Regions from separate parts of the Homo sapiens genome. Here regions 2, 3 and 4 are each linked to region 1. The links come from fine-mapping of genetic effects on gene expression. A gene starts in region 1. Each other region holds a variant in brackets. All regions are shown on one strand. Distances are between the middles of the regions.

Region 1 (8,108 bases):
AAGATACAAAGAGAAGCTTGTTAAATAATGACAAGAATAAGGCCAAAATATGTCAATAATCACAATAAAGGTGAATTACCTATTAAAGGGCAGACTCTCAGATTGGATGGCAAGCAAAACCCAGATATGATATTTTAAAATAAGAGACCCACTTAAATTACACAAAATGTCACAGCAAGGCTGAAAACGAAGAGACTGGAAAAAGACATCTGCAATTATAAGAAGAAACGTATCAAATAAGAGTTGAATATGAAAATCAATAAAAGACACAAATATTTTATGCTGACAGAACAATTCACCAGATTTAATATTCATGACCCTTTATGTACAAATAACATCACTCTGAAATATATAAAGCAAAATTAAAAGGAAAATGCACAGATCCACAATTTGGTGATGAAGTAACAAATCTAAGGAACTGAGATAAAGTGGGTAAAAAACCAGAGTATAAAGGATTTAAATGACAAATTAACAAGCTTAATCCAAAAAATATATAGAACCCTGCACCCAACAGAAAATACTTCTTGTGGGAGGAAAAGCATGAAATTTACAAAAACTATTATGAGACCAAAAGGAATTATCAACAAATTCCAAAAGACTGTTTACACAGAGCATAGTCACTGAATGTAGTAAATCAACCCCCCACCCCATACTACCTGCGGAAATTAAAAAATCAAATTTCCCAAATAATGTATATGGTTTACAGAAGAAATCAAAGGAGAAATTTAAGAACATTTAGAAATGGTGATCGGTTGAAGTAATACATTTCAAAGCCTGAAGGATTTTGCCAAAGCAGCATGCCAAGAGATATTTAGGCCTTAAATAAATTTTATTAGCAAAATGAAAATATTGACTTAAACATTCAATTAAAGAAGCTGGGAAAAAAGCAACAAAATAAATAATAACAAATGAAGATAGATCTCTAGCTACTGAAGAGATTTTAAACATTTTAAAATTCAGACAGTTTTATGTCAATGAACCTGAGCACAGACGAACTGAACAATTTTCTAGGAAAATATAAATTACCAAATAGGCTCAAAACACTGAAGATATTACTAGAGATGTGTGCCACACATCCCCACCCCTCACTGCTAGTTCACTAGGTCCATTAAGTTTTACAGATGAATTGTACAAAACTTTCAAAGAATAGATAATTTTTATCAAACACAAACCTGTTCTGAAGCAGGAAAAATATGGGAAGCTACTCAACTTTTTCTTAAGCAGTTACTCAATTTTTTTTTATGAGATATGAAATTTTTTTCACTGCTAGTACACTAGGTCCATAAACTTTTACAGATGAATTGTACAAAACTTTCAGAGAACGGCTAATTTTTATCATATACAAACTGTTCTGAAGCAGGAAAAATATGGGAAGCTACTCAACTTTTTTTTATGAGATAAGTATAACCTTGACATGCAAGAAAAAAACTCAAGGCCCAAATCACTACTGGGTCTTAGACACAAAAATACTGAATAAAGGTATCCAGCAGTAGAATAAGAATGTATTACCAAAATAGTTTATCCCAAGAATACCTAAAAAGTTTAACATGAAAAGTTTATCAATGTGAATGCTTATATTAACAGGCAAAGGGAGGAAAACTATCACTTCATGCAGAAAAACAAAACAATTCAATATAAAATTATTCCATGGAAGGTGGGGGGGCCCCTTAGCAAATTAGGAAAAAAGAGAACTTTCTTATTCTGATCGAGGCTATCTACCAAAACATCCTACTCAATGACAGCAAACATCATACTCAATGATGAAACATTCGGAGAATTTTTATTAGGCACAAGATGAAGACAGTTGCTATCACTGTTTTTATTCAATACTGTACTGGAAGTCTTAGAGAAATTCAGTAAGATAAAAAGAGGCCTAAAGATTGGCAGAGGAAAATCCATCTGTAGAACAAATAAGTTAACAAAAAGTCAAAAGCCAAGCAAGAAGCTAAGAGAAAATGTTTTTAACATATTTTAACAATAGCAACAAAAAGGAGGCATAATTAACCATACACACCAAAGAGACTTCTAAAAATACAGTATCGAGGACACATAAAGAACTTAAACATGTTTTTAAAAAACTATAGAAATGCATATAAATTATAGGTTAACAAACATAATAGACACTTCAATCTTAGATCACAGAATGAAAATTAAAATTAAAAATATAATTTGCAGCCATCACTAGGCAAAAATGAAGAAGATAATATCTCATGTTAGTCTAAACTGTAGAGAAACTTAACTCTCATAAACTACCTGTGGAACATGTAAATTAGTAGAGGTATTTTTGGAGGCAAATTTAGCATGACCTATTAAAACTAAAAATGCTCACAACTTAAAACCAAGCAATTCCACTTTTAGGTATATATCCTAGAGAAATAGCACATGTGCACAAGAAAACACAAAGATTTTCCTTGCAGCATTGTTGTATGGTGAAAAACTGGAAACCTAATGTTCTCAGAGAATGGCAATAAAATGTGCTATACAGCACACATCAAACAAAATAGGATTTAACAACAAGACCAATAAAAGAGACAAAGAAATGTTTTATATTAACAGATCAATTCAGTCATACACTGGAACACTATGCAGCAGGTAAAAGAAATGATCCATAAATAACATAATGAGCTATAAATAACATGTACAGGCTGCAAAAACAATGTCAAGAAATAAAGCTACAGAATGATGTAGTATAGTATTTTTCCACTAAAAAATTACAAATGTATATATTCACCTATATAGAATATGTAACAGTATTAAAAGGTGTAAGTATTAAAAAACACTTGAAAGCTCTGTACCAAAGTCTCCAGCGGGAGTAGGGAGGGAGAGGAGTGAGGGAACATTCCTTGTACAAAACTTTCAAAGAACGGAGAATTTTTATCATATACGAACTTTCAAGAAGGAAAAATACGGGAAGCTATTCAACTGTTTTTATAAGTATAACCTTGACACGCAAGAAAAAACTCAAGGTCAAAATCTGGATTGTGCTCTTTATCTACAAGGTACCAATTCTGTAAAAGAATGTAAAAGTGTACTTAATTTTTAAAAATTAAGTATATATAAATGTTCAAAAAGGAATTCATTTTAAAGCTTTTTATAGCATATTGTCAAACTCTCTTCCAGAAAGGTTCTACCAATTTATACTTCCACCTAAGCACACTCAGTAATAGTTTTATTTTTTTTTAGACATGAGGTCTATGTTGCCCAGGTTGGTCTTGAACTCTGGGCTCAAGTGATCTGCCAAAGTGCTGGGATTATAGATGTGAGCCACCCACCGCGCACGGCCATAGATTTTTTTTTTTTTTTTGAGACGGAGTCTCGCTCTGTCACCAGTGCAGTGAGAAGGGTGCAGTGGCGTGATCTCGGCTCACTGCAGCCTCTGCCTCCCGGGTTCAAGCGATTCTCCTGCCTCAGCCTCCCGAGAAGCTGGGATTACAGGGGCCCGCCACCACACGCCCGGCTAATTTTTGTGTTTTTAGTGGAGACGGGGTTTCACCACGTTGGCCAGGCTGGTCTTGAACTCCTGACCTCAGGTGATCCGCCCGCCTCAGCCTCCCAAAGTGTGGGGATTACAGGTGTGAGCCACCGCGCCCGGCCCATAGCTTTGTTTTTAAGCAGCTCTCACCAGCGTTCACACCTGAAAATTTGAAAACTGAACGTGCACAAGTAAAACATGTTTCCTGGAGAAAATCTGCAAAATACAATAAAGCATAAAGGAGAAAATTTAAACACCATCCCATCATCCAGAGACAACTGGTGTTAATATTTCAGAGAGTAAATGGGCTTAAAAAACTTTTTTCCCCTTCTCACTTTTTCATTTTGGTAGAAAAATAATTAAGCCAGTCTGCTTTGCTTCAATGTATGGTTCCTTTTCGTTTCTAAAACAGGCTTTAAAAACACGTTTACCATTTCCTCTCGGCTCCTTACGTTTTAATTGTAACGACAGAACCACGGGTTAAGTCACGCTTAAGAACCACGGGTTAGTCACGCTTCTAACTACTTCACGTGTTCTTATTTAATCCCCCTAACAGTCATGTGGGTTAAATTAGCAGCTCGTTTGCTGATGAGGAAGCTAAGGAATGCCATACCGTAAGTGGCAGACACGAAATAAGGAACCAGGCAGCATGGTTTCAGAGCCTATGCTTTGGTTACTCCATTTGACCTCTTCAAATTTACTCCTCTCCTTGGCCTCATGTGTTAGTATTTACAGAGCTCACTGCAGGTTTCCACATGCCAAAGAGCACAGTTAATTACATATCTTTCCTTACTTAATTACTTATTGGGCTGTGGCTGATAGCGAGTCAGAAGTGTTACTATCTAATCTGAACTCCATGATCTTGGATGAATGACTGAACTTGCTGTATTTAAGGGCTCGTGTAATCTTACCTGTGAAATGGGCTAGTGGTTTAACCTTCAAGTTCTGCTTCTGGGTTTTATACTGCTGTCCATTTCCTGCCGCCCCTTTGACAACCTCAGGTTCCCAGCAGCTTAGGAATCACCTCTCATTAAGGCTGCACCCTGAGACAGACAGGCTGAAATGGAGGTTGGAAACTCAGTGCGCCCGCGGCCCCTTCTGCAGCCAGGACTGCACTTGGGTGCCAGGAGAAGGGAGGCTGCAAGGGCTGGGGTCCAGCCCCTGCTCGGGCGGCCGAGGGCTCCGCGGCGTTTTCAGCTCCTCCAACCTCCCGGCTAGAGGAACTGTCGGGGGCCAGCCACGGCGGTGCCTTGGTTTCACCTGGCTCCGCTGCGTTTTCTACGCCGCCCGCCTGACCTGAGGAGTGAGCTCCGCCAGCTCCGTTGGCAAGGCTGGGTTCCTCCGCGGGTGGGGCTCTCCTCCGACGCCAAGCCGCCCAAACCTCCCGAGCGCAGGTGCCCTCTGGCCGGGAAGTACTTCACCATTTACTAGCCTTCATCTCAACCACAACAGTCCCGCCCTGCCTCTACCGGGGATGAGGGAAGGCGTAACCTCCGCCGGGGACCAGGCCGACCTACCTAAACCGATCACTACATGGGAGGAGTCGGACGCCGGCCGTCCCACCACCCAGCCAGGAGCCCATTGATTGGTCGCACTCCCCACTGGTTCACGCCTCAGAGACTCGGCGCACTTACCGCTGGCACCGCAGTGGCGCCCGAGCGCGCCGCCTCCCGATTGACTGCTAGCGCTCTCGGCTTGTCTCGCGCACTGTAGCTGAGCCAATGGAGTTACTCGTAGTCGAGAGGCCGGCATCACTGGAGTGGTGGCGCAGCTGTTTCCTCCGGTAGGTGTGAGGCTGCCATCTTGTGTGTGGCTGGGACTGGGCTTCTTGGGGGTTGAAAACATACATAGCGCCTGGCCGTAGTGGAGGGGTCCGGAGAGAACAATGGGGTAAAGGAGAGGCCTAAGGGAGGAGACCCAGCGCCTTCCTACTTGCGGAAAGGATGGGTTTCCTGGGCCTGAGTCTCATCCCTGGCTAGAGAGAGCGAGGAATGGTGGTGGTGGTGGTGGTGATGGTTGTGGTGGTGGTAATAGTAGGGATCCCAGGTTTTGGTTTGTTGATCATTGTGGGGGCTGGGCGGGGCCTTTGATGCCTTAACATTGGTTCCTGGGAGCTCTTTTAGTAATTTTTGTCTCGCAAAGATTCTGACCATCAACCCCCTTTGACAAAGGAGGCTAGCTGATGAACTGCCTGATTGAGAAAGGAGCAAAGCTAGTAGTGGAAGGGGAGTGCCTCTCTACTATCCTCAGGTTCAGAAGAGACCTCCTCTTCCGTCCTTTTCGAGGGAGCGGCTGCTAAACAGTTTGCTCTTCGCGGGGGTTACTTTACTAAGGCCATCCTTTGGTAATAGTGGGCGTCAAGTTCTGCGTTTGGGCAAAATTGTACATTAGCGGGCAGCCAAGCATTCCTGCAGCTGTCTTTTTTTTTTCTTTATTTTAAGCTAGAAAGTGGTGGTCTTGCAGAAACGGGGCGTGAAGGAAGAATTTTGTCAAATCTTGATTTCCCCGATAACGATATGTTGAAGATTATAAATCTCTGGGTCTGCCATGACATGCTTGGTCACTTCATGGAGCAGGAGGAGGCTTTGTTAGGGAAAGCACCTTAATTTCTGAGCTCTTTTTGGGGTAGGAGGAAGAAGACAGGACTTAACCTTGTTTCCCTCCTCCTTTTTTTTTTTTTTTTTTAGCATTGTTGTGGATGGCATTGCATTGTCTTTCATTTGAGGGGAAAATGTATTGGATCTGAAGACCAAGCTGATGAAAGGCTAATATTTTGTGGTAGATTTTAGCAGTTTGACTTGCATGAAAAGAAAGCCGATGTATTATTGCCTTCAGCTTAGATTTCAGTTATTCAAGATTAACTGATGAACAACCTAATCAACAATACATGATAAAGACATCTCGCATCAGGAATACCAAAAAACAAAACAAACAGCAAAATAATTGATGTTTTTTTTTTTTTTTTTTTTTTTTTTTTTTTTGAGATGGAGTCTCTTGTCGCCTATGCTGGAGTGCAATGGTGCAATCTCGGCTCACTGCAACTCTGCCTCCGTGGTTCAAGCGATTCTCCTGCCTCAGCCTCCTGAGTAGCTGGGACTACAGACACCGGCCATCACGCCCAGCTAATTTTTGTATTTTTAGTAGAGATGGGGTTTCACCATGTTGGCCAGGCTGGTCTTGAACTCCTGACTTTAGATGATCTGCCCGCCTCCACCTCCCAAAGTGCTGGGATTACAGGTGTGAGCCACGGCACCTGGCCTGAGAATCATTTTTCTTAATTACTTGATTCCATGCTTGTATCTTCCACTTGACTTGTATCTTCCAGTTGGCTTGTCAAAATGCATGGAGAAACAAAAGTTCATATACCTTTTGACCTTTTCTAAGAAACTTGTAAGGAAATAGAGATAGAATCAAAGCTTTATAATCACAGTGTAATTTTGTTCTTGTGAAAAATTGGAAATAACAAATATCTAATGGTAGAAGAATGGTTTTATAAATTATGACACATCCCATCATTATATTTTTCAGCCTTTTAAAAGGAACGTTTTCAAAGAGTAGTGGCATAGGCTGTTGAATGACATAGGAAAGTGGTTACCATTTTGTGTTAAATGAAAGAAGTATAGAATAGTCATTGGGAAAATGCAAATTAAAACCACCGTCATTGGAAAAATGCAAATTAAAACCACAGTGAGATACTACACAACCTCTTACTCAGAATGTCAAAACAAACAATACATTTCCTGGCAAGGATGCAAAACAAGGAGAAACCTTAGTCTTGCTGGTGAGACTGCAAATAGTACAGCCACCTAGAAGACAATTTGACAGTTTATTATAAAATTAATCATATCCTTATCACATGATCTGGCAAGCCCACTCTAGATTGAAATTTACCACCAAGATAAGAGAGTTCCAGTAGTTTTTCATCCTTGTCAGCACTTGGCATTATCAGTTAAAATATTTAGCCTTTATATGAGGTATGATGGGGTATCTCATTGTGGTTTTAATTTCCCCTTTGATGATTGTATGCTTCTCTGATGAAAAGTGAAATGAAAACCTATATTGGCTGCTCTGCAAATATTTATAGCGATTTTATTTGTAATGGCCAAAACTGGAAACAACCAGATTCCACTAGGAAATAGATTTTTTTAAACTCCAGCATGTCCATACAGTGTAACATAGGAACCTCCTTTTTATTTTCTTTAGAGATGGGATCTCGCTATGTTGCCCAGGCTGGAATACAGTGGCATGATCACAGCTTACTGCAGCCTTGACCCCCCAGGCTCAAGTGAACCTCCCTCCTCAGCCTCAAGAGTAGCTGGGACTATAGATATGTGCCACCATGCCTGGCTAATTTTTTGGAGAGATGGCATCTTGCTATGTTGCCCAGGCTGGTCTCAAACTCCTGGACTCCAGTGATCCTCCTGCTTTGGCTTCCCGAAGTGCTAGCATTATAGGCATAAGCCACTGTACCTAGCCGGGAACCTCCTTTTAGTATATAGTTATATAAATATATGGGAAAAGGGAATATATATATATATATATATATACACTAAATCATTATAAGAAAATCATCAAAATAAGCCATAAAACATTGCACGAGATTATGAAAACATACCCCAAAAATGTGGCCACAAAG
Region 2 (8,108 bases), 44 kb before region 1:
GTCAAACACACAGAGATTCAAAACATTTACTTTTCATTTTTCCTTTCCAAAAGCTATTGGAAGAGCTTTACCAATATGTGGAAGAGTAAACCAAGGAAAAGGAAAATAATGGCATCTAACTGGAAACAGATCCCACATAAGAGACAAAGTGAATCTCTGGGGTACTGATGGAAGATGATGGCTATGAACCAGTCCAGACTAAAGCAAATCAAGATTTTAGGAGAAATTTCTCCAAGAAGATAAAACTGACAGAATACCTCATATTTCTAAAGGTCAAATGGACTCCACAGGCAGAGCTCAAAGAAATACTGGCTGATCCATAATATTCCCTTTTGCACAAAAATGGTTCCCATACTGATCAAGCTTTTTTCCCCCATTTCATTTTAGTGCATTGCCTGAAATTCCTGCGTCTCTATGGTGAATAAATGGATTTCTCAACTTTCTTCATCTGTAGGTTGCTGGGCTATGTTTTGCTCCTTTTCCTAGCTGTCTGGTTTCCCAGTCTGCTTGGGCTTCCCAGTCCCCTTTTCCACTAGATAGATGATCACGGCCAAGTAACCTATGGCAAAGTGCTTACTCTTTGCCTTTTTTCTGTAAAAAAAAAAGATTTGCAAATCATGCCCAGGAGATACCAAGGGGCTGTTTCAGATTTCATAGTTCAGAATTGTTTTCGTGTGTGTGTGTGTGTGCTGTTTTTTTTGAGAGAGAGTCTTGCTCTATTGCCCAGGCTGGAAGTACTATGGTGAAATTATGTCTCATTGCAGCCTTGACCTTCTGAGCTCAAATGATCCTCCCACCTCACTCCTGAGTAGCTGAGACTACGGGCACATGCCATCATGCCAGGCTAATTTTTGTATTTTTTGTAGAGACAGGGTTTTGACATGTTGCCCAAGCTGGTCTTGAACCCCTAGGCTCAAGTAATCCACCTGCCTCGGCCTCTCAAAGTGCTGGGATTACAGGTCTGAGCCACCATACCTGGACTTCTTGTGTTTTTTAAGTGAAATTTTTGCCCAGTACAATTACTTCTGGCCTAAATAAGCAACGTGTGACTACTTTCTAGGTTTCCTTTTCAGTAACTGTATCTCTATCTAGAACAAAAATATTCAAGTTCCTCCAGGTTTCTATTCCCTCTTCTCCTATCTGTTTGTATAGAAAGAGTAGAGAAAATCTGTGGGAAAGAAGACTCATTTCAAAGAGCTTGCCAGAATCTTACTTACAGAAGAGCTTCTCCCTCTCCCCACTCAAATGGTTGATGGGACAGTGTTTTATCGATCCAGATATTGCTTCTCCAACAAGTGTTAAAATACTTGGGAGTAATATGCATAAAATTAGATCCTCAGGCGCTGTTGCCCACCTTGTAGCTCATAATGGTAAATTATTTGCCAGGAATTAAAAATCAATTTTGTAGGTAAAAATGTGAAATTTAGCTCTTTGGGGGGGCATGAACTAAAAGGTAACAGTCACAAAAGCAATTAGAAACAGCTGAGTTCTGTTATGACATTTGTTTCTCTTAATATATAATTTGTAAATAAATTATAAATTGTACAGTGGTATTTCATATAAAATATACACTTCCATCCTACTCATGTAAAGTAGCACAGCAGTGAACAAGATACCCTATGTGTATGAAAATATCCTAATTGTGTTCCTGGAATTTCTAAGTCACACAAATAAAATCTGAAATAAAACATAAACCCCATGACAAAGGAAAACGGAGGGGAATTTCCTTGATGGACCTAGACCTTCTTTTGCATGGCTTTAATTTCAGCCTGATAAGCTAATTTCACAAACAGGCGTTAGTTACATATTTATAATATTTTTTTTCTACATTTATTAACCCCACATTGGCAGAAGATTTCCTTCTCAGGCACAGTCCCAGCTTCATAGCCATAATCCCATGTTAGCTCTGTTCTTGCTTTCACATACCTAGAAAGTAGAAATTTGAAAAGAATCATAAAATACCCTAAATAACTACCAATGAACCAAATTATATCAATTTTCATATTAACATTAACCATCCTCAAAAATATGATCTGTTCTCTCACCCAACATCCACCAATTAGGAATGACCTTTTATTAAGAATAACCATTTGAGTTTTATTTCAAATCTACTAAAATGTTAAGTAAGAAGGAACCTATCAATATGAGGAAGAAGTGTATTTTGCCAACAGTGGGACCCAGTCATGTGTTGAGGCCTGCAGTGTGGAAGTAGCTGGGGAATAGCTCTGAATTAAAGATTATGTAGCACTCTGCATCATTTATCCCGAGTGGAACTGGGTGATACCTGATATCTTCAGCCCTTTCAGGCATTCATTCTAAATGGGAATAAGAGTCAAAATTTCAGGTGTGCAAAATCTTATTGAATAGGAACAGTTTAGGATAATTGAATATTCTACAGTACCAGATATTTGGGGCTATAGTATATATCTTTAAAAAATATTTTTCTATTATAATTATCATTTTTTGAGACAGGGTGCAAACTCTACCTCTTGGGCTCAAGTGATCCTCCTACCCCAGCTTCCTGAGTAGCTGGCCACCAAACCTGGTGAACTTTTTCTATTTTTTTTAGTAAAGACAGGGTTTCGCCATGTGGCTCTGGCTGGTCTTAAACTCCTGAGCTCAAGCAGTCTCCCCACCTTGGCCTCCCAAAGTGCTGGGATTACAGGTATGAGCCACAGCACTCAGCCCTCTATTGTTATTTTTAAAGTCACAATTTCAGAATTAAGTAAGCGAAATCAATTTCAAACCTGTTGGTGAAGAATGCCACCAATGGAAAATTCCTGTTGTGTGTTTCTACAAAAACATTCTGTACCAAGAGATTTGGGCAACAACTATGCTGTTAAATAAAAATAAACACAAAGGTTAGAAATAGCATAAAGTCTGATGCCTTGTGCTTTTGCATTAGAAAACCATTCTGTTTTTAATATATCACACTGATTTTGTTCTTTTTTTGTCAATGTATAAATTATCACAGCTCCTGTTAATAGTGGGAACCCATTCAGAAAAGCCCTGTTCTGACGCTCTTCTATGTTGCTGGCAGAAATGCAAAAATGGGACAAATCCCTATAAAATATGTCAATATTTATCATTATTATAAATGCATTTGTCTTTTGATTCTGCAATCTCATATCTAGAATTGTATTCCACAGATTCATCTGTATATGTTTCCATGTGTAATTATTCATTGAGCATTGTTTTTAGTGCTAAAGGTTTGGAAATAACCCAAATATTTGCCTAAAGCAGATTGGTTAAATAAACTTTGGTACACAATAGAATTCTATGCAGCTATAAACAAAAGCATACAAATAAAAACAATTTGAGAAGCTCTGGGTATTAATATGGAATTGCCACAAGATTTTTTTTTTTTTTTTTTTTTTTGAGACGGAGTCTCACTCTGTCGCCCAGGCTGGAGTGCAGTGGCATGATCCTGGCTCACTGCAACCTCCGCCTCCTGGGTTCAAGTGATTCTCATGCCTCAGCCTCCCAAGTAGCTGGGATTATAGGCATGTGCCATGACACACGGCTAATTTTTTTTGTATTTTTAGTAGTGACGGGGTTTTGCCGTGTTGGCCAGGCTGGTCTCAAACTCCTGACCTCAAGTGATCTGCCTGCCTTGGCTTCCCAAAGTGCTGGGATTACAGGCATGAGTCACATCACGCCTGGCCCAATATACTGTTAATTTGAAAAACAAAGTATAGAACAGTGAATATAATATGCTATGTTTTATGTAAAAAAAAAAGGGGGGGGGGGCGGGAGAAATAAGGCCAGGTGCGGTGGCTCACACCTGTAATCCCAGCACTTTGGGAGGCCGAGGCAGGCAGATCACTTGAGGTCAGGAGTTCAAGACCAGCCTGACCAACATGGTGAAATTGTGTCTCTACTAAAAATGCAAAAATTAGCCAGGCATGGTGGTGCACAC[C/T]TGTAATCTCAGCTACTCAGGAGGCTGATGAGGAGAATCGCTTGAACCTAGGAGGCGGAGATCGCAGTGGGCCGAGATCACACCACTGCACTCCAGCCTGGTGACAGAGCAAGACTCGGTCTCAAAAAAAAAAAAAAAAAAAGAATAAATATGATGACCTACAGAGAGAAGGTGGAGTCGGGGCATGGGAACAGGAGCACAGTACTTCTCAAGGTATGGCTTTTTTTTTTTTTTTTAAACAAAAAGTTTTCACAAAGTAAGTTTAATATGAAGATGTACAGAACCTAATTTTTACATCACTGTAACAAACAAGCCTTTTGGAGAGGAGATATTGTAAGCAACAAATTTCTTTGCTGAAGATAGCCATTATGTATCGTCGTTCCGAGGCTTCTAAATAGATGATACCATTTCCTCATATTAGCACTATTCCAGTATTGCTCTGTTGCCCACTAGCCGCCATCTCCACACATTCATCATGTGATTCATTAACGCCTGTAATCTCAGCTACTCAGGAGGCCGAGGCATGAGAATTGCTTGAACCCCAGAAGCGGAGGTTGCAGTGAGCTGAGATTGTGCCACTGGTGACAAAGTGAGACTCTGTCTCAAAAAAAACAAAAAATAAAAACCAAAAAACCAGTATATTGTGGCAATCTTTCCATATTAATACACCATTAAATCCCTGCAGTATTCTTTGGACATATCTGCCACCATTTAACTTCACTGATAACTTCCTAGCCATACATTTTTTTCAACTCAGGTAAGTGAGCTTATTTAAATCTGATATATTTAAATACTTTTCTTATACACCATTTCTTACAGTTTTTTAAAAGCAAATGTTTACTATGTGCTAGGCACTGTTCTAAGCACTTAATGTTAATTCATTAGATTCTCATAACATCCTGAGACAGTTATCATTTATCCCTGTATTACAGAGGTAGAAAATGAGGTATCAGAGGTCAAGTAAAACATCCAACTGTATACAAGTGGAGGACTGGAATTCTAACCAGATGGTCTGACTTTAGAGTCTGTTTATTTTCCTCATAATTTTGTTAAGTAGCATAGAAAAAAACAGTTGTTCAGAAATAGGAATCTCAGCCCTTATACTCACATTAAGGAAGCGGCCGACATTTCCTTCTTTTGTGGCATCCAATAAAAACACATTCCCTTTATTGAACTTTGTTAGAGAATCAGATGAAGTATTCTTGGTTTCACTTAGCAACTCTTCATCACAAAATACCTGCTGTCTTTGACATGCTGTAGATCGTCCCTCTTGGGGTTTCTGAATTTGAACCTCAATTGCCTTTTTAATATTCTGATTATCCAATGTGGTCGCCTGGTTACATCTGCTCCTTGGTGGAGTTTCTTCTCTATATTTAGTTATATCTATCACATCTGATTCAATCAGCAGATTATCTTCAAACTCATCAACATGGTTTGAACTTGAGTCCTCTAATAGACATTTTGGAAGGAAACATCAGGAAATATACTTGCTGAGCAATAGTGCTGAAATTAACAACACTAATTAGATGCTAGGTGCTTTAATTATCGATCCTTACAATGTGTTAGGCAGGTAGTATTATTTTAATTGTATAAAGGAAACTTTCTCTGAGGGATTAAGGAATTCATCTGACCCACAATAACGAGAACTGGGGTAACAAACCTAGAAATGTTTGAATCCCAAAGTCTGCCTTCTTTCTACTACGTAACAATGCCTTTTTATGAATCTACATCTTGCTTCTTCATTATTATATTTAATCTCTACTCATAATAAACTGACTTTCTTCTCTTTAATTCTGGAATCTGCACTTAAGTATATTCTAAACAAATGTAACAGAGTGGGTGTTTTGGAGGCACTCTAGGCCTTTATGCTGCCAATAAAAGGCCTAACCCTGACAGAGACACCTTCCACAAGTCCCAGCAGTGACAACTGTATTGCTAGGGGTTTTGCACATATTAGTGTTTGGTGTTTTACTAGATGACCATTCAATAATTACACCTTTGTAAACAATAATCCTTTAAAAGCAGATGCACTGCTTAATCGTTTTTCTTATCCAATAAGGAAAATAATTTTTTGAGAGTATTCAAGAGTATGAATATGGCTGGGCATGGTGGCTCATGCCTGTAATCCCAGCACTTTGGGAGGCCAAGGCAGGAGGATGCTTGAGGCCAGGAATTCAAGACCAGCCTGGGCAACAAAGTGAGACCCCATCTCTACAAAAAATTTTAAAAAAAAGAAATTAGCCAACAAGGGGGTGTGTGCCTGTAGTCCTGTTTGCTCAGGAGACTGAGGTGGGAGGACTGTTTGAGCCCAGGAATTGGAAGGTACAGTGAGCTATGATCCCACCACTGCACTCCAGCTTGGGTGACAGAATGAGTCGCTGTCTCTCTTTAAAAAAAAAAGAAAAGATATGAATGCATGTCAGATGGAGTAAGTATAAATTACTTACTTTAAAAGAGCCACAAAGCTATTTGGACCACCTAATTCAATGGCGCAAAGAAATTATACTTGTCTAAAATTGAGGCTCTTGATTTAATCATCACTGTTGTTGCTGGCTGCTGTTCCTATATGTACTTATATTTTAATCATGGGTTACGTGTAAGCCATAATACAACTTTGGATTTTTTTATACAAAAAGTATGTAGCTTTTGACTTTTGGAGTACCCGCTATATATATTGTAGCAGTCAATGAAAAGGGCAAAAGAACCAAAAGCAACGGTATGCACTGTGGCTCACATGCATGATAAAATAAATATAATACACAAAATCCCCTTTTTTGATAGACCTTTTCTATCAAGGAACTGCCATGTCTCCTCCAATCTCCATCCTTTAATATTAGGTGGAGAGCTGCGGTTGCAGGGGGGAAGAGACAGCAGTGGCTCACCAATTCTTCACAAACGGATATCTCTCAGCAATGTCTCCTTGTGAAGGACACAGTGAAATGCAAAAGTACCAAAAACAATGTTTGTCCAGTTGTAATATTAACTATGGCAAGGACTAGTAACTCTGAAACACAAGGACTCAGGGTGGCAATATTTTAGCCTTTTGCCAGAGTCAAGCTGAGTATGCTCTGCGGCAGTATTGGCTAGGCAATTGCAGGAAAGTGATGTGTGTTTATTTTTAAAGGCGTCTACAAAGAGTTTGAAAGTGGCTGCTTTGCACAATGGTTCCAAAGCCACGGACAACACCTGTGCACCACAAAGACTCAAGAGTTTTCCAGCCCACCCCTCTTGTCATGCATCAAGTCACTACTGGCAATTAGACCAGAGGTCAGCAAAGTTCTCCTGCAGAAGGCAAAATAGCAAATATTTCAGGCTTTGCTGGCCATGTGGTGGTCTCTGTTGTGATTATTCAACTCTTGCTGTAATGTTGAAGCAGACAATATATAATGTAAATTGGCTGTATTCCAATAAAACTTACATTTTATTTTTTTTTTTGAGACAGGGTCTTGTTCTATCGCCCAGGCTGCAGTACCGTGGCACAATCATAGTTCACTGTAACCTCAAACTCCTGACCTCAACAATCCTCCCACCTCAGCCCCCTGAGTAGCTAAGACCTCAGGTGTGCACCACCACACCTGGCTATTTTGTTGTTGTTGAGACAAGATCTTGCTACATTGCCCAGACTCATAGCCTCAAGCAGCCCTCCTGCCTTGGCTTCCCAAAGTGCTAAGATTACGGGCGTGAGCTACTGCACCTGGCCAAAACTTTATTTCTGGACACTAAAATTGTAATTTCATATAATTTTCAAGTGTCAAAATATTATCACCTTCTGATTTTTTTCAACTATTTAAAAACATAAATATCATTCTTAGCTCACATGCCATACTGAACAGGTAGAGGGCCAGATTTGGCCCACACACGATATTTTGCTGATCTCTTATGTAGACAAGTTGTAACCTTTCTGACAAATGCAGCATGTTTATTATGGAATCTAAGAAAATGAGCTACAGGTATTGAGCAAGAGACAGAGAAACAGGCAGAAGAGGTAGGCATTCACAGAAGAAACAAAGCCTACTTTGTGCTCCCTTGGTTTTAGAGTTCAGATGCTCTCGGGGTGGTTTAAATCCATCATTATCTTCTGGAGTGACAGACTCCGAGGAAACAAATTCCTTAAAAAAACAAGGAAGATGTCTTTACTTTCCAGGTCAGGCAAAAGTATTTAGCAGTTAGGCCTCTTTCATCAAGTGTC
Region 3 (8,108 bases), 25 kb before region 1:
TAACTTACACAGTGATCTTTTAGAACGTATACAGTAAACTTATACAGTGATCTTTTAATAAGTAATTTTATTGTAATAATCTTTGCTATAAAATTATGAATCTATTAATAACAATTTCATACACGTAAAGATACTGTTAGATACTGTTGCAGAACATATTCCCAGAAGTGGGAGTGCTAGGTCACAAGGCAAATGGGTTAGTTATTTCATTAATATTGCCAAATTGTTCTCCATAGTGTCAGTTTCTTCAGCAATAAATGAGAGTGCCTGTTTTCACAGAGTTTCATCAATCAGGTGGATCTTGATGCTTTTGGATTTCAGAGTCTAACAGGTAAAAGGATATACTATAATTTATTTAGAAATCTTTTTTTTTTGAGAGAGAGTGAGTTTCAATCTATTGCCCAGGCTGGAGTGCAGTGGCATGACCTCAGCTCACTGCAACCTCTGCTTCCCAGCTTCAAGCAATTCTTGTGCCTTAGCCTCCCAAGTAGCTGGGATTACAGGCATGTGCCACCACATCCAGCTAATTTTTGTATTTTTAGTACAGACAGGGTTTTGCCATGTGGGCCAGGCTGGTCTCAAACTCTTGACCTCAAGTGATCCACCCACCTCGGCCTCCCAAAGTGCTGGGGTTATAGGTGTGAGCCACCATGCCTGGCCCTTGATTTATTTTAGTATCCAGTATCTTCCTGTTTTTCAAAGGTGGTACCTGGAACCTACTTGTTCCCTATTATTAGGTGTCAAGTTCCTTCTTACCACTTTTTCTTATAAGGAATTATGGTATAACCTGAACTCTGGATTTTCTATTTATTTGTCTCTCTGAGATAAAACACCCTATTTTCTTTCATTCAGAATTCACTGTAATACATTCCTTAGGTTCTCATGGCCTTGTTCTTTGTTTTGATATAGGTTACTCACTCTCAAGTTACTTATACACTTACAGATTTATAGAGATAGTAAACTGTTCTGTTGTCCTTTTCAACTTGACTTAACCAAATAAATATGTTTCAAACTGGATTCTGTAGTATATTATTCTGTAAATGTCATTTGACATTTTGCCTATGAATTTTTTTTTTTTTTTTTTTTTTGGAGACAGGGTCTTACTCTGTCACCCAGGCTGGAGTGCAGTGGTGCAATCTTGGTTCCCCACAACATCTGCCTCCTGGGCTCATGCAATCCTCCCACCTCAGCCTCTCGAGTAGCTGGGACGAAAGGCATGCGTCACAAAGCCCAGCTAATTTTTTGCTTTTTTGGTAGAGATGGGGTCTCACCATGTTGCCCAGGCTAGCCTCAAACTCCTGAGCTCAAGTGATCTGCCTGCCTTGGCCTCCCAAAGTACTAGGATTACAAGCATGAGCCACCGCACCTGGCCTCGGGTATGAATTTTTTGGTTCCTGTTTTGCTCTTTGGAGGAAGGGGAACATTAAATATTAATGTAGATGACTCAATAAATTTTTCTTGGAATATGAAGGGATTAATTCAGGATATATGTGAGAGAGAAAGTATCTGGGTTATCCTTAGTTCTTAAGTAACTACTAATATTTGAATAGTAGTTTAATGTCCTTTACATAATTTCCTCATATGACACAACAAATACAACTCCAAGTTAGCCACTACTGGAACAATATACAATTAGAACTACTTAGGACTAAAATTTGTAATAGTAAATATGCTGGTAAAACTTGTAATTTGGAATTTACATTTCAAGAAAGCCAAACTAGATTAAAAGTATTCTCCTTATGACTAATAAAAACTAGGAGATACAAGACTCTAGTTACTGAGCAATTAACACTGAGAAATACATGTTTTACATTTAAGAAGAGTTAGGGAGGAGTGGGAGGAGAAGAGAAAAAAACAGAAGAGGAGGAGAAAAGCATAAAAATAAAACACTAGTGTGAACCTTAGAAAAGATTAATTTCTTATCTGTGCTTCATTTTACTAAAGAGAAGGAAAAAACCCAACTTACAAGTCTTAAGTATAAAGTAACCTAATTTCATCCCAATTTTATGGAGAGGAGGGTTAACTTTATTTAGGTGTGAAGATACATTACTGAAAAAAAAAATAGAAATAAAACCAATTCTATGCACAGTATTGTAAACCCAGTCATTGATTAAAAGTGCTAGAGGTAAACACAGGATAAGGAGTAAGTAGTGAGAAGGAGAAGTCCACGGCTGTCTGGACCTGCTTGCCAGCCTCTGGGTAAGGATTTCTCAGTTTGCATATGATTTGACAATTGTTCAGGGTGTTGTTAGTCACTCTGAACATCAAAGTGGAGCATGGCTTAGAGGCTGCCAACTGATTATCTAGCTTTTGGCAAGGCTAAAGTAAGAAGTCATTCTATCCTCTATGACCATTAAGGGGGCATATTTTAAAACAAGAATGTATACTGTATTCATCTAAAGACTGCAGTAGGTAAATCTGGTATTTTGCTCAGTCCCTTCTTTAGTCATCCTCTTCTGAAAGGCAGGTATATTAATTTCAGTGTACTCAAAGATGTTGGGTCTTGTATACATACTGGGCTTTTTATACTGTCTCTTTCAATAATTTAAATTAAGATATTAAAAAAAATGGTTGGGTGCGGTGGCTCATGCCTGTAATCCCAGCACTGTGGCAGGCCGAGGTGGGAGGATTCATTGAGCCCAGGAGATCAAGATCAGCCTGGGCAACATGACTAGACCCTGTCTCTATTTAAAAAAAAAAAAAAATATATATATATATATATATATGTCACATGAGATAACACTTGCACTAGAAGGTTAGAGTTTAGCTGGGGCAGCTATGTTTGGTCATGTGGGAAGAGAAGAAACCTACTGGTAACAGAGAGAAGTAGAGTTGAGACTGTGTCAACCCTGACCTTAGGTATTGACTTTTAAGTTCCTATTTTAGTGTTTACATGGCCTGCTGTGTTACATTTTCTGTTCTTCAAGACCTATTTTATTTATATATGTGTGTATGTATGTGTAGGTACATGTGTGTGCATGTTTTTAAAAATAATCTTTTGGGTTTGTGTGCATGTCATGTAAAAAGCCATAAAAATTTAATGGCTTAAATTTACACCTGTGTCTTTAAGCAGTGGTGCAAGCCCAGTGTCACCCAGTATGCTAACCAAAGCTGCACACCTCGTACACTTCTAATAAATTCCACTACTTAAGCTAGCTTGAATAGGTATGTACTCCTGACAAACCAAAGTTTATACTTGACCAAAAAAAAAAAAAAAAAGGGAATTCAGACTTCTAAAATCACAAAAGTAAATATCCTTTTAAAAGAATTATCACTGAAGTAATACTTTTGTTTTTACATTTACCTATGTCATAACTCACTTATGTGGAGTAGAAATTCAGTTCAACTCAAGAATAGAATACTGGCTGGGTGTGGTGGCTCATGCCTGTAATCCCAGCACTTTGGGAAGCTGAGGAGGGAGGACTGCTTGAGACTAGGAGTTCACGACCTGCCTGGGCAACATAGTGAGACCACATCGCTACAAAAAAAAAAAATGTTAAAAATTAGCCAGGTGTGGTGGTATGCACCTGTAGTCCTAGCTACTTGAGAGTCTGAGGAGGAAGGATCGCTTGAGCTTAGGGCGTCAAGCCTACAGTGAGCTGTGGCTATGTGCCACTGCAGTCCACCCAGCGAGACAGTGAGACCCTGCTGTCTCAAAAAAAAAAAAAAAAAAGAAAGAAAGAAAGAAAACAAAAAAACCCCACAAAAAAACACCAAAAGCCTGAAGCCTGTGTCCTATTAGACCCAAGATTTCATCCTGGGGTTTGCCGTTGATAGTTTGTATAATCTTTTTT[T/C]GAAATAGGGTCTCACTCTGTCACCCAAGCTAGAGTGCGGAGGCGCGATCATGGCTTGCTGCAGCCTTGATCTTCTGGACTTAGGTGATACACCTCAGCCTCCCAAGTAGCTGGGACCACAGGCATGTGCCACCAAGCCCGGCTAATTTTTGTTACTTTTTGTAGAGATGGGGTTTTGCCATGTTGCCCAGGCTAGTCTTGAAATTTTGGGCTCAAGTGATCCTCCTGCCTCAACCTCCCGAAGTGCTGGGATTACAGGTGTGAGCCACCATGCTCAGCCTAATCTTGAGCAGTTTAGCTGGGGCTAAGAATTCCTGGCTTAAGTTATTGAATGTTTAGTTTACTAGGCAACCTATGTGACCACTGGGCTGCTAAGAGGGTTTAAGTACTGAAAATAAAATAAGCAAATAAACTTCTGGCCTGCAGAGGAAATATAAAAGGAATTATTTAAACATAATTCCAGTCAAGAATGAAATGCTTCCTTGGAATTCTTAATGGCAAAGGAAGAAAATCCTAAGCCTAATAAGACATGTCCCTTCATCTGAAAAGATCTCAGAATGCTCAACTCAAAAGTTAGGTATAATCTCAAAAAAAGCCTCTGAGTGTCAACACAGTACAAGAGAGATGGGAGATTAAGGAAATGAAATTCTGATTATATAATCATAAACAGTCCTAAAGAGATGGGAAAACAGTTAAAGAAACCAACTCAATTTTTCTTGGAAGCTCGGATTTTTAAAAGTATACATACAAAAGAAGACAGCTAATTATGAATACGCAACATTGGTACGAAACTGTAAGAAAAGTATCACAAAGCCTAGTAAGAACCGAGGTTTCCAAAAGTGCTAATAAAATAACAACAACAAAAAACAACTAAAGCTATGCTTAGAACAAGAAAATAATCTGTTAGGAGAAAAATAAGGTTAACTGATAACAAAGAGAAGGAAGAGTTTCTCAAAAACAATTCTGCCTTTGTCTTTTCCATCTTTAAGTATGGCTCTCAAGTTGGAAACAAGAGGAAAAAAATAAAAAGAAACTGAAGTCTGTGACAGTTAAAGAGAGGGTACTAGAACTCAAGTTTATTTAAGCATATAGAAGACTCTACAAATTAAATCTCAAGGTCTGGAAAAAAAAACTTCAAATATAGAAAAATTAAAAATAAAATAATACTGCCCTGATTTTTTCTTTGACCACTTATCCTCAAGTTCTAGCTGCCCTGATTTTTAAAAAGGGAAGGAGGACAGGCTACAGAAAATATAGAAAGGTTAGCTTAACACTGGTCTCTTAAAAATCTCTAGAAGAAGGCATCAAGGGTGTGGCTTCTAAATATTTTGAATTTAAAAGGCCAACCAACACTAGGTGCTGAGTTAACAAGTAGGTGAGAAAAATCCAAATTAACTGAATTTTCTTTTTTGACAACGTTTTCAATAAGTCTGAATAATGTCTGGCAATGCCACAGAATGCTATGGCAGTGAACCTTGATTTTTCATGACCACTTTGTAAGTGAGAAGTGTAGGCGGGACAACAGTAGAAGTAAATTCACAGTTGCTTAAAGCGTTCTTTCTGAAGCGTAATAAAAAGAATGTCTAGTAGTGAGCCAGCCACAAGGTTTTTATCTTTGGTCATGTCCTGTTCAATATTGTTTTCAGTGACCATAATGAAGATTAGAAAGCTTATTTATTTGTACAAGATGATAAGCTAAAAGGGACAAAAAATATTCCAAAATTCAAAAAGATTCTGATAAGCTGGTATAATGAACTTAAAGCAAAAAATGATACTTCACAGGAATAAACCACTCCTGCATTTAAGTTTAAAATATAATATCTAAATATATAGATAACTGTTTGGTAGAGAGCTTGTTTGGTGGTAATTTACATGAAAATTTAATTTAGATTTAGACTGAGTGAATTTGTTCCTAAAAACTTACAAAATTTTACACTGTATATTCAAAGGTCAGAATTTCTAGAAAAAAAAATGTTTTGTGAGCCACTGAAATGGCCAATTAAGGAGCTAAAGTGTGAACTTAGCTTTCTCTGTGAGCATTTTAAAGTAATTTTATGGGCCTTTTGAGACCCACTCAAACTGCAATGACATCTCTAATATTTGTAAATCCAAATTATATGAAACAGTGTCTATCTACAACTCTCACAGGCATGAAAATCAAAAAAATAATTATATAGTTTTTCTTAGTCAATTTAATATTAAGCTGAAAGAACAAATGAAATTAGGGTAACAAAGAAGTTTCTTTCTAAAGATACTTCTTTGTTTTTTGAAACTATGTTCTCTACTCTAGAGAACTTTCAGAAACTTCCCTGTAATTAGTACTTGAAGGGTTAGGCCCAGGTATTACCTACTAAAAATAAAGACTACGTGTCAGAGTATCTAGATTCACTCTTCCGCACATCTCCTTTATGCCAAAGAATCTTTATGGAAAGTAATGATAAAATGAGAAAGGGAAGGTCAGAAAAATTTAGTCTATTCCCATAAACTTTTAGACACTACTTAAGAGCTGTTACGCATTTTGAAAACTCAACTGATACTGAAAGAAACATTTTGACACTTTTAAATTCTCCAGATAATCTAAGCAGTAAAACAAAAAACAAAACAAAACAAAAACACACTACTTGGTAGATTTCAGTGTATTAATAAAATACACAAAGACATCTTAAGCTAAACTTTATAAAAAGACTTGATTAACTAGGAATATTCAATAACCTATTCAGAGACTCATGAAATTCTATCTTACATAAAATACTAAAATATACAACTTTTAAAGCTTTAATGGGAAAAATTTTTTTGTATATTTCATCTATTCTAATGTCAAGTGATTTATAAAGAAGAAATCTGTAGGAGCAAAAGCATTAATAACAAAGAATTTATATACATACAGAAATGTACAGTCTTCTGGAAAGGAGTTTTCACATGATGTAGAGGGAAATGCATTGGATTTGTTTTCCTGTTCCTTCTGAGTCACAGGCATAGGATCTACACAAAAAAATAATGTGAGCAACAAATATACCAAGTTAAAAACCATTTGCTATAAGTACCCAAGTAATATGTTCATTGACTAGAGTCTGCCCATATGGATCCCTAAAATTTGCAAACATAGTAAGGTTTCAAGATTGAGGCAAAAGATTAAGTGTCAATATTTTCAAAAATATGAATAAACTAGGATAAAATACTGAGGACAGAAAAGATTTCTACTGTAGAAACTCTAGTTTGGCCTGAACTTGATTTGAAGCTTAACCAATCTTTAAGGTGGACATTGAGTATCCCTACTTCTGCATGCATTTTATAGAGAAATCACATAATTCTTAAAGGCTCTATAAAAGTCAGAAAATGAAAAATTTATGTACCTTTTGTTTTCCTATTGCTCTACAACTATTTTAGGGAGGGGATGAAGTATCTGGGTATCTCTTTTGATCTAGTTGTTCACATTTCTTTTTTTTTGAGACAGAGTCTCATTCACTCTGTCGCCCAGGGTGGAGTGCAGTGGTATGATCTTGGCTCACTGCAACCTCTACCTCCTAGGTTCAAACGATTCTCCTGCCGCAGCCTCTCCAGTAGTTGGGATTACAGGCATGCAAAACCATGCTGGGCTAATTTTTGTAGTTTTAGTAGAGACAGGATTTTATGTTGGCCAGGCTGATCTCGAACTCCTGACCTCAAGTGATCCGTGCACCTGGGCCTCCCAAAGGGCTGGGATTACAGGTATGAGCCACCATGCCTGGCCCAGTATATTTATTTTCTAATAAAAAAATTATAACTTACTTTCCCCCTCAAAAGAAGTTTAATAAAAGGATATTGTATTTCAAGGTTGCTCCTTGGCTAACTGAAAAACAAATATCTGTCTTTAATTTTCCAAGTAAAGAAAGGTTTAAAATCTGATAGCTGAGCCAAGCACAAGGTTCATCCCTGTAATCCCATCACTTTGGAAGGATAAAGTGGGAAGATTACTTGAGGCCAGGAGTTTAAGGCCCCCCTGAGCAACAGAACAAGGCCCTGTCTCTACGACAGAAAAAAAAAAAAAAAAAAAAGTTAGCCAGGCATGGTGGCGCATGCCTGTAGTTCTAGCTATTTAGGAACTGAGGTGGAAACACTGCTTAAGCCCAGGAACCGTAGGCTGTAGTGAGCTATACTTGCACCACTGCACTCCAGCCTGAGCGACAGAGGAAGACCCTCTCTCTAAAATAAATGAATAAATAAAAGTCTGATAGTTGAAGAGAGCTATGTAAAAAGAAAATAAAAATTTAGGACCTTCCAAATTTATTATGCCAAAGGGAAAAGTTAAGCCCTGAAAGAGGACTCATGTAACAT
Region 4 (8,090 bases), 69 kb before region 1:
TCAGTTGACTATTATGAGGATTAAATGAGTTAACATTTGTAAAGCACTTAGAACTATGCCTGGCATAAAGCAAGTGGTTATTAAATAAATAAATAAAATAGTGCCTGGAACACTATGGGAAAATTAGGAATATATGCCCACTGGCAGGAAAAACATCAGCCTCTGAATGGAATTTTTAAAAATCATCTTACGAATGTAACATAGCTCACAAAAATCATATTTAAAAAAACATGCTGTCCTAACATTGATCTCATTATTCAAGATATTGTGACTAAAATAATATATATATATATATAGATTTTTCACTGAAATTCAAAATTCACATAACCCCTGTGCATCCCCCAAACTGGCTTTGTTCTCATTTGAAAACCATTTACATAAAATTAGTCTTCAAAGTCTCCTTGTCTTAATCCAACCATTCCTTATCCCAATCCCCCAAATGTGGTTTTAAAAATGTTTTATTAAATACTTATAAATTCCTCGAACTCCATCAGACTGTGGAACTGCGTCGTCCTTCTTGGCACAGAAAAAGTGGTAATTCTTGTTACAGTTTTTTAAATCACATCCCACGGTGGCTCCTCTTTTATGACAAAATTTGCATTTCTACAGAAGAATAGATTTTACTGAGTAAGTACCTGTTTGTTGTTATTTGTTAAAATTCAAAGATATCATTAAATGTTATTTAAGTTCCAGAAGCCCTGCATTTTATCCTGGGCATCATCAGCAAGATTCCATCCCGTTACAAACATTAGGGTACAGTACTTATATTTGGCTGCTCATTTGGGAATTTCAGCGAAACCTCAGCTAACCGGAATGCTTGGACAGACAGTTTTGTAATGATCTGATTAAAAGCAGAAAAATGCTTTTTGTTTCAAAAAAACAGTCTCTGTCTTTTAAAAAGAATTTTCTAAAAAGCAGAGTGGGCAAACTTGTCCAGCTCCAGGCAAGGGGCCCCACTAGGGGGCCCTTTGAGACAGGCGAGATTGGTCGCTGGCTGTGCCACGGAGAGTGGTGTGATTTCTCTTTCGGACTCAGAACCTGCTGTGGGTGATAATATCTGTCTTACAGAGTTGCCATTGAGGATAATGTGAGATAAAGTAAGGGAATCTAGGTAGTAGGGCCAAAAATTTTTAAAAATTCTACAACTCTATTAACAGTTTTTTCTTGGTTCAATTTATTTGATCCCTGGCTTGTATTTATCTATCTGGTATTTTATATGTGACAGTGGTGTCATGATGGCTAGGCAGTGTGTGGCCACAGCAGCCTAACTGGTTTAGGGGAATCCAGCCAGGACCAAGGCTGATCAGCATGATACTCTGGCTGAATGACGTGGGGGCACAGTGAAATTGCCTTGCAGAACAGGAGGTCACTCACACCATAGCCCAGGGTCGGCACAAGCAAGCATAGAAACAGTTAAAGGAAATTCAAATATAGGCAAGAAATAAGGTTATGATAACGGTGGAAATTCAAATCAGAGCATACAAGAACGATCATTTAATTTGGGAGGAGGGTAACTGGCTATGTATATAGGAAAAAAATAAAGTTAGATCCCTACCTCACAATATACTCCTGAATAAGTTGTACATGGATTAAAGCTCGAACCAGATAACAATGTTAAACAAAAAACTCTTAAAGATTAGGAAATATAGGAGAAAGAAAAAAAGCGTAGTATGGAGGCAAGGAAGGCTGTCTAAGGCAGGAAGAAAACCCAGAAGCCACAAATGAAAACTCTGACAGGCTGGGCATGGTGGCCCATGCCTGTAATCCTAGTACTTTGGGAGGCTGAGGCAGGAGGATTGCTTGAGCCCAGGAGTTCGAGACCAGCTTGAGCAACACAGTGAGACCTCATCTCTACAAAAAACTTTAAAAATCAGCGGGGCATAGTGGCACACTCCTGTAGTCCCAGCTATTTGGGAGGCTGAAGCCAGAAGATGGCTTGGGGCCAGGAAATCAAGGCTGCGGTGAGCTGTGATTGCACTCCAGCCTGGGCGACAGACGGAGAATCTGTTTCAAAAACAAAAACTGACAGAACCTACTATACAAAAATTTTAAACTTCCATTTTATAGTGAGGGCATTCAAAATATTTAAAAGACAAGGAAAAGATTGAAAGAAGAATGTTTGTAGC[A/G]TACTAGATAAAGTTTTAAGATTCTGATAACCTGCAGAAAAATGGTAACTGGCAAATTACAGAAGAAAAAATACAAATGGCTAATAAACATTTATTCATTTAAAAATACATGAGTATATAGTATTTATTTAGCATGCAGTAGCTATGATGTGGCAGGCATGGTTTTAGGATAAGGGAAAACAGTAGTGGACAAAGCAGAAAAGATGCCTGTCCACGTGAAGCTTACATTCTATTGGAGACAAGGTACAATGATCAAATAAAGCAAAGTTTAAAACGTCTCACAAAGTTATATACACATTATATCGAATTAAAATAGGGTGAAGTGACAGTGTCACTGGGTCCCTACTTCAGACTGGGCAGTTAGTAAAATGGGTCACCTCTAAGGAGGTGATATGGAAGCTGAGATCTGAATAATAGTAAGAGCTCCCAGATGCAAAAAGGAGGAGGAAAGACATTCTAAGCAGAGGGCCTTGGGTCTTGGCCGCAAGAATGAGCTTCCCCATTGGCAAGCTACAGCGAGGACAAGACAGATGGCCAGTGCTGTTGGAGCAGCGAAGTGGGCACAGGGAAGTCTCAGGATGATCAAAGGGGTAAGTAAGGGCTGGGTCACGTAGGACTTACATGCCAGAGTAAGGAGTTGGGTTTTATCTTTCTGCACGGGGAACATAAACTGATTAACATTATTGAAAGATCACTCAGGCTGCTGGGCTGCTGCTGGGTGGAGAACTACGGGCTGGGGTAGGGATGGCAGGAGAGACAGTCGGGCGAGTGTCAGTACTCGCTTTAGAGAACAAGATGGGTGACTCCGCTATGGTGGATTACTGACGCTGAGAGAAGTGGGTGGATGAATGCAAGATGCACCTAGGAGTTCGTGCCCATGGGCTTGGTGTTGGGCTGGGAGGTTGACGAGGAAAAGAGAGTCCTTAGACTTCTGGCTTGGGCAAATGGATAATGATAGTGCTGTTTTTATGAGCAGATTTAGATGGAGAATGTGTGTGTGTGTGTGTGTGTGTGTGTGTGTGTGTGTGTGTGTGTGTGTATAGGAGATGGAACTGTACTTTTTTGGCCACTTTACTCTGAAATGCTATTGGATGTCCATGTGGCTCTGTCAGATTGGTAGTCTGAATCCTAGGGAGGAGCCTGCTTGCTGAGGGCCCCTGCTGCTCACCCTCAAGGTACTTGCCCAGCTTACTGAAAATACCACAGCACTGGCCTGTCCCCACCCTGGGTGTGTGCCATGTATCTGCCCACATAGTCCAAGAGTTCCATAAATGCTGTGAGAGGGTAACTATTACCTCAGGTGACTTTCCTCTCTTCTCTCCTTTATCCTCCACTTCCAACCCATCCCAAAGCCTTCCCAGTAGGGAAGTCTGCATCCCAAGGTCCGCAGAAACCCTCAGGTACCTGCTTTCCCCCAAATATTATGCCTCCAATCAACTGCCCTCATTTCTCAGCCTGGGTCTCTTCATAACTGGATGGCTACTAGAATTTCACAGAGATTTCTTTAACTCTGTGTCTCCCCACTCAAATCCAATTAGTGAAGAGCAAAAAAATATTCCAGTTGAGGTCTGTCTGCTACTTTCTAATCAGTTCACCCATCTCATCACACCCAAAATCCTAGGGATGTGGCATTGTCAGCACTAATGATGTCAGCAGCCAGTCTTGCCAAGTATTAATTAGTAATAGCATAGACATTGAGAGCAGGATCCACACACTCTTTTTTTTTTTTTTTAATTTGAGACAGAGTCTCACTCTGTTGCCCAGGCTGGAGTACAGTGGTGTGATCACAGCTCACTGCAGCCTCGACTTTCCAGGCTCACCCAATCCTCCTACCTCAGCCTCCCAAGTAGCTGGGACTACAGGTATATGCCACTGTGTCGGGCTAATTTTTTTTTCTTTTTTGGTAAAGACAGGGTCCCACTATATTGCCCAGGTTGGTCTCAAATTCCTGGGCTCAAGCAGTCCTCAACTGCCTTGGCTTCCCAAAGTGCTGGGATTAGAGGCATGCAGCACCATGCCCGGGCCACACACAGTCCATTTTTATGGCTTGCTTCAGGACCTACTACAGTATTGTGTACACTGCCTAAGATAGCATAATTTGCAGAATTCCATCTGGACTGTTGCCTTTCACCCTGCACTTTCCATTTCTTCGATTAAAATGGGCATCATTTTACCTATAGCTGGGAGTTTACCTAGAGCAATGTATGTAACACACCTACCACAGGATGCTGCTGATGCTGATGCCTTGCAAAGACTAACTATACATTTGTCCCTGGTTATTAACCCTGTGGTTGTAGTCAGAATGTGAGGTGCTCACACTTGCTGTCCTGCTTGCTAAGATGTGAAGGGTCCTTGAGAGGATGTCGCTGCAATAAGCCCAGTGGAATGACTTCTCAGCATTTCTTCCTCCTTGAATAGCCCCCTTATGACCCATGAGGAGCTGACCCCTGATTAGTTATGGCCACCCCCAGCAGTTGGTGCAGAAAGAGGGGTGCAACCTAATGAAACTTTCAGAAGGGGGCTTATTCCATGTGTATGGATGACCTTTGTCTTTCACTGGGTATGAACAAGAAAGCCTGATGCTTCAGTTGCTGCCTGCGGCCACCCTATGACCACAATGGGACCAGCTGATGTTGGGGACAGGAGGCCAGAGAGGAAGAACCTGGGCCCCTGATGACATTATCAAGCCACTCAATCAACCAACTTGGAAAGCAGGTGTTTTCTCTGATCAAGTGAAAAAGTAAGTATCCTCTTTGTAAAAGTCTGTTTGACTTGAGCTTTCTTCTACTTACAGCAAAAGCATTCTAACTCAGATCACTTTACTGGTGAAGTATATGGTAGTTTATTTTAAAATATTAAATGTTGGCCGGGCGTGGTGGCTCACACCTGTAATCCCAGCACTTTGGGAAGCCAAGGCAGGCAGATCACCTGAGGTCAGGAGTTCGCGACCAGCCTGGCCAACATGGTGAAACCCTGTCTCTACTAAAAATACAAAAATTTGCCGAGCATGGTGGCCCGTGCCTGTAATCCTAGCTACTCGGGAGGCTGAGGCAGGAGAATCGCTTGAACCCAGGAGGCGGAGGTTGCAGTGAGCTGAGACCGTGTCACTGCACTCTAGCCTGGGCAACAAGAGCAAAACTCCGTCTCAAAAAAAAAAAAAAAAAAATTAAATGTTAAGTTGAATTGAGGTTTCCAATACAGTTCCTACTTCTTCCAGCTCTCCAAGATGCTTCTCTATCCCTGGTGTATCAGTCAAATAGACTCCTTTGGAATGCATTCCTTGAGGGTCTGTTCATCCAGTATAAGAAATAACATCATTTACACTTACCAACTTCCTTCCTCTCTGGATTTCTTTCTTTACTGATTCCACATCAAAACTTCTATCAGGATTAAGTGGATCCTGATCCTCACATTCCACAAGTCCTGAAGAATACAGCTGCAGATTGGAAAAAAAAATCCAGAGTATGCACAAAGTAATATTGAAAGCTACATGTCAGAAAATCATACCAAAAGTGGAAAATCAAACCAGGAGTGGGAAATGGACTGGGGGTAAAACAGTGGCAACTTTGGGGGTGGATGAGCAGACCATAAGCCATCCCATTTCTCTGGGAATGACCCTGGTTTCCGGGCATGTTTTATACTTTGTAATCCTGACCTCTAATAACTCATTGACCTGGGTGGAACCCTGATGCCAAGCTGGGTCAGTCTGATCCCCTATCCTAAAAGTGTGGAATGGGCTTTGAGCAATAGCTGAAGCCACGTGGTTAGAGCAAGTCAGTCTGCAAAGAAAGAAAAACAAGGGCTAGAAAGAGGACATTCTAGGTTCCCAATGGCTTTCTAGCTGTTTCTTACACCCACCTGCATGCCTGCCTTTAGGAAACATGAAATGCCCCCAAAACCTTATCATAAACCCTCTTTTATGTTTAGGCTGGCTCAAGTCTCTATGTGCTACTTGAAACCAGAAGACTCCAAATCTGAATTGAAGATCAATGTTTCACATATTACACTCAAATAACAAAAGGGCATGAGAAACATAAGAGTAAATTTTGGTGACATTGGCATAGGCGAAGATTTCTTATAAAAATCAGAAAGCATAAAGAAAAAGTAAGTTGGATTCCATCAAAATAAAAATTGTCTTTGAAAGACATTGCTAAGAAAACAAAGAGGCAAGCCAGAGACTGGGAGAAAATATTCACAATACATATCTCTGACAAAAGACTTGTATCCAGATTTTAGAAAACACTTACAACTCAATAATAAGACAATTCAATTAAAAGTGGGCACAAAATTTGAATAGACACTTCATGAAAGAAGGTTTATGAATGGCAAATGAGCACATGAGAAGATGCTCAATATCATTAACCCTTAGGCATATTAAAGCCATAGTGAGATGCAATATATATCTACTAGACTGCCTAAAATAACAAGACCCAGTGTTGATGAGGATGTGGAGCAAATGAAATTCTTACATATTATTGGTAGAAATGTAAAATAATGCAATCACTTTTAAGGTTAAACATACACTAACTTTATGACTCAGTAATTCTACTTCTAGCTATTTACCCAAGACAAACATAACCAAACAAGAAAAGGAGACTGAGTGCCCCAAATTAAAATTGTCCTTATTTAAAGATGAGGATTGTCCACATACAATATATCCAGGTAAATCTAGAGACTTTTTAGAACTGATAAGAGTTTGGTAAGGTTGCTGGATGAGACCAATAAATAAAAATCAATAGTGTTCATATATACTGATAATAGCTCATTTAAAAATACTTTAGAAAAAAGTAACAAAACAAAACAAAAAACAAGCCCAGAATATGCCTAACCCCAAGTTCTATACCTCTACAGATAAAAATTACTGAATAGCCGGGTGCGGTGGCTCACGCCTGTAATCCCAACACTTTGGGAGACCAAGGCAGGTGGATCACCTGAGGTCAGGAGATCGAGACCAGTCAGGCCAACATGGTGAAACCCCATCCCTACTAAAAATACAAAAAATTAGCTGGGCATGGTGGCAGGTGCCTGTAATCCCAGCTACTCGCGAGGCTGAGGCAGGAGAACTGCTTGAACCTGTGAGGCGGAGGGTGCAGTGAGCCGAGATCGCGCCATCACACTCCAGCCTGGGCAAAAAAAGCGAAACTCCGTCTCAAAAAAAAAAAAAAAAGCCATTGAACAATTTTGAAATTATGAAAGGCCTAAATAAAGACACAAAGACTCATATACAGATGCTTATAGCTGATTTTTATCATAAGAGCTCCAAACTGGAAATAACACATGTCTACCAACAGATGAATGAATAAGCAAATTGTGATACATGCATACCAATTAAGTACTGTGAAGAATGATAAAGGAACAAGATACAGATACATGCAACATAGATGCATCTAAAACAGTATGCTGAGCAAAGGAAGTGACACAAAGGAGGACAACTATAGGATTCCTTTCATATGAAATCTGAGAAAAGATAAGACAAATCTACAGGGACTTGGGGTAGGAAGGAATTGATTGCACAGAACATTGAGGAAACCCTTTGGGGTAATGGAAATGTTTATATCTTGATGGTGGTAGTGGTTGCATGGGTCTCAACATGTCTCAAAACTTTCTGAATTGGACACTTAAAATGGGTACATTTGATTTTATGTAAATTATGCCAATAAAGTTAACTAAAAAATAGTAGCAAATCAACATCAACAGTATATTAGAATAAAAACATCACGATTGGGCTGGGAGCGGTAGCTCACGCCTCTAATCCCAACACTTTGGGAGGCTGAGACAGGAGAATCACTTGAGGCCAGGAGTTCGAGATGAGCCTGAGCAACATAGTGGGACCCCCATTTCTACAAAAAGATAAATAAAAAATTAGCTGGGTATGGTGGTACGTGCTTGTAGTCCAAGCTGAGGTGGGAGAATTGCTTAAGCCCAGGAGTTCAAGGCTGCAGTGAGCTATGATTATGCCACTCC

What was found. PIP is the estimated chance that this variant, and not a neighbour inherited with it, causes the effect.
Region 2: its variant is the best candidate, but not a certain one, in a credible set for the expression of SETDB2 in cerebellar hemisphere (GTEx, PIP 0.55).
Region 3: its variant is the best candidate, but not a certain one, in a credible set for the expression of SETDB2 in iPS cells (HipSci, PIP 0.82).
Region 4: its variant is the best candidate, but not a certain one, in a credible set for the expression of SETDB2 in whole blood (TOPMed, PIP 0.90).

What each region holds. Positions count from the first base shown.
Region 1 is chr13:49,441,133-49,449,240 of GRCh38, reverse strand. It overlaps SETDB2 (SET domain bifurcated histone lysine methyltransferase 2), which reads right to left and starts at 4,967. Exons shown (of 14, transcript NM_001160308.3): 1 at 4,384-4,967. CAB39L (calcium binding protein 39 like) reads left to right here and starts at 5,177. Exons shown (of 11, transcript NM_001079670.3): 1 at 5,177-5,255. It overlaps SETDB2-PHF11 (SETDB2-PHF11 readthrough), which reads right to left and starts at 4,967. Exons shown (of 21, transcript NR_135324.2): 1 at 4,384-4,967. RefSeq lists enhancers at 3,814-4,587, 5,270-5,349, 4,588-5,360, 5,730-5,799 and silencers at 5,060-5,109, 4,781-5,261.
Region 2 is chr13:49,485,550-49,493,657 of GRCh38, reverse strand. It overlaps SETDB2-PHF11 (SETDB2-PHF11 readthrough), which reads right to left. Exons shown (of 21, transcript NR_135324.2): 12 at 2,748-2,836. SETDB2 (SET domain bifurcated histone lysine methyltransferase 2) reads right to left here. Exons shown (of 14, transcript NM_001160308.3): 11 at 7,935-8,028; 12 at 5,028-5,368; 13 at 2,748-2,836; 14 at 1-1,926. The coding sequence ends at 1,809. It also overlaps the pseudogene SNRPGP14. Among named protein-coding and RNA genes, the nearest start is that of PHF11, 6.3 kb to the left of the region's middle. The variant C/T (reference allele first, on the strand shown) is at 3,920.
Region 3 is chr13:49,466,532-49,474,639 of GRCh38, reverse strand. SETDB2-PHF11 (SETDB2-PHF11 readthrough) reads right to left here. Exons shown (of 21, transcript NR_135324.2): 5 at 6,680-6,776. It overlaps SETDB2 (SET domain bifurcated histone lysine methyltransferase 2), which reads right to left. Exons shown (of 14, transcript NM_001160308.3): 5 at 6,680-6,776. Among named protein-coding and RNA genes, the nearest start is that of PHF11, 25 kb to the left of the region's middle. The variant T/C (reference allele first, on the strand shown) is at 3,795.
Region 4 is chr13:49,510,531-49,518,620 of GRCh38, reverse strand. SETDB2-PHF11 (SETDB2-PHF11 readthrough) reads right to left here. Exons shown (of 21, transcript NR_135324.2): 13 at 5,455-5,562; 14 at 470-603. PHF11 (PHD finger protein 11) reads right to left here. Exons shown (of 10, transcript NM_001040443.3): 3 at 5,455-5,562; 4 at 470-603. Among named protein-coding and RNA genes, the nearest start is that of PHF11, 19 kb to the right of the region's middle. The variant A/G (reference allele first, on the strand shown) is at 2,127.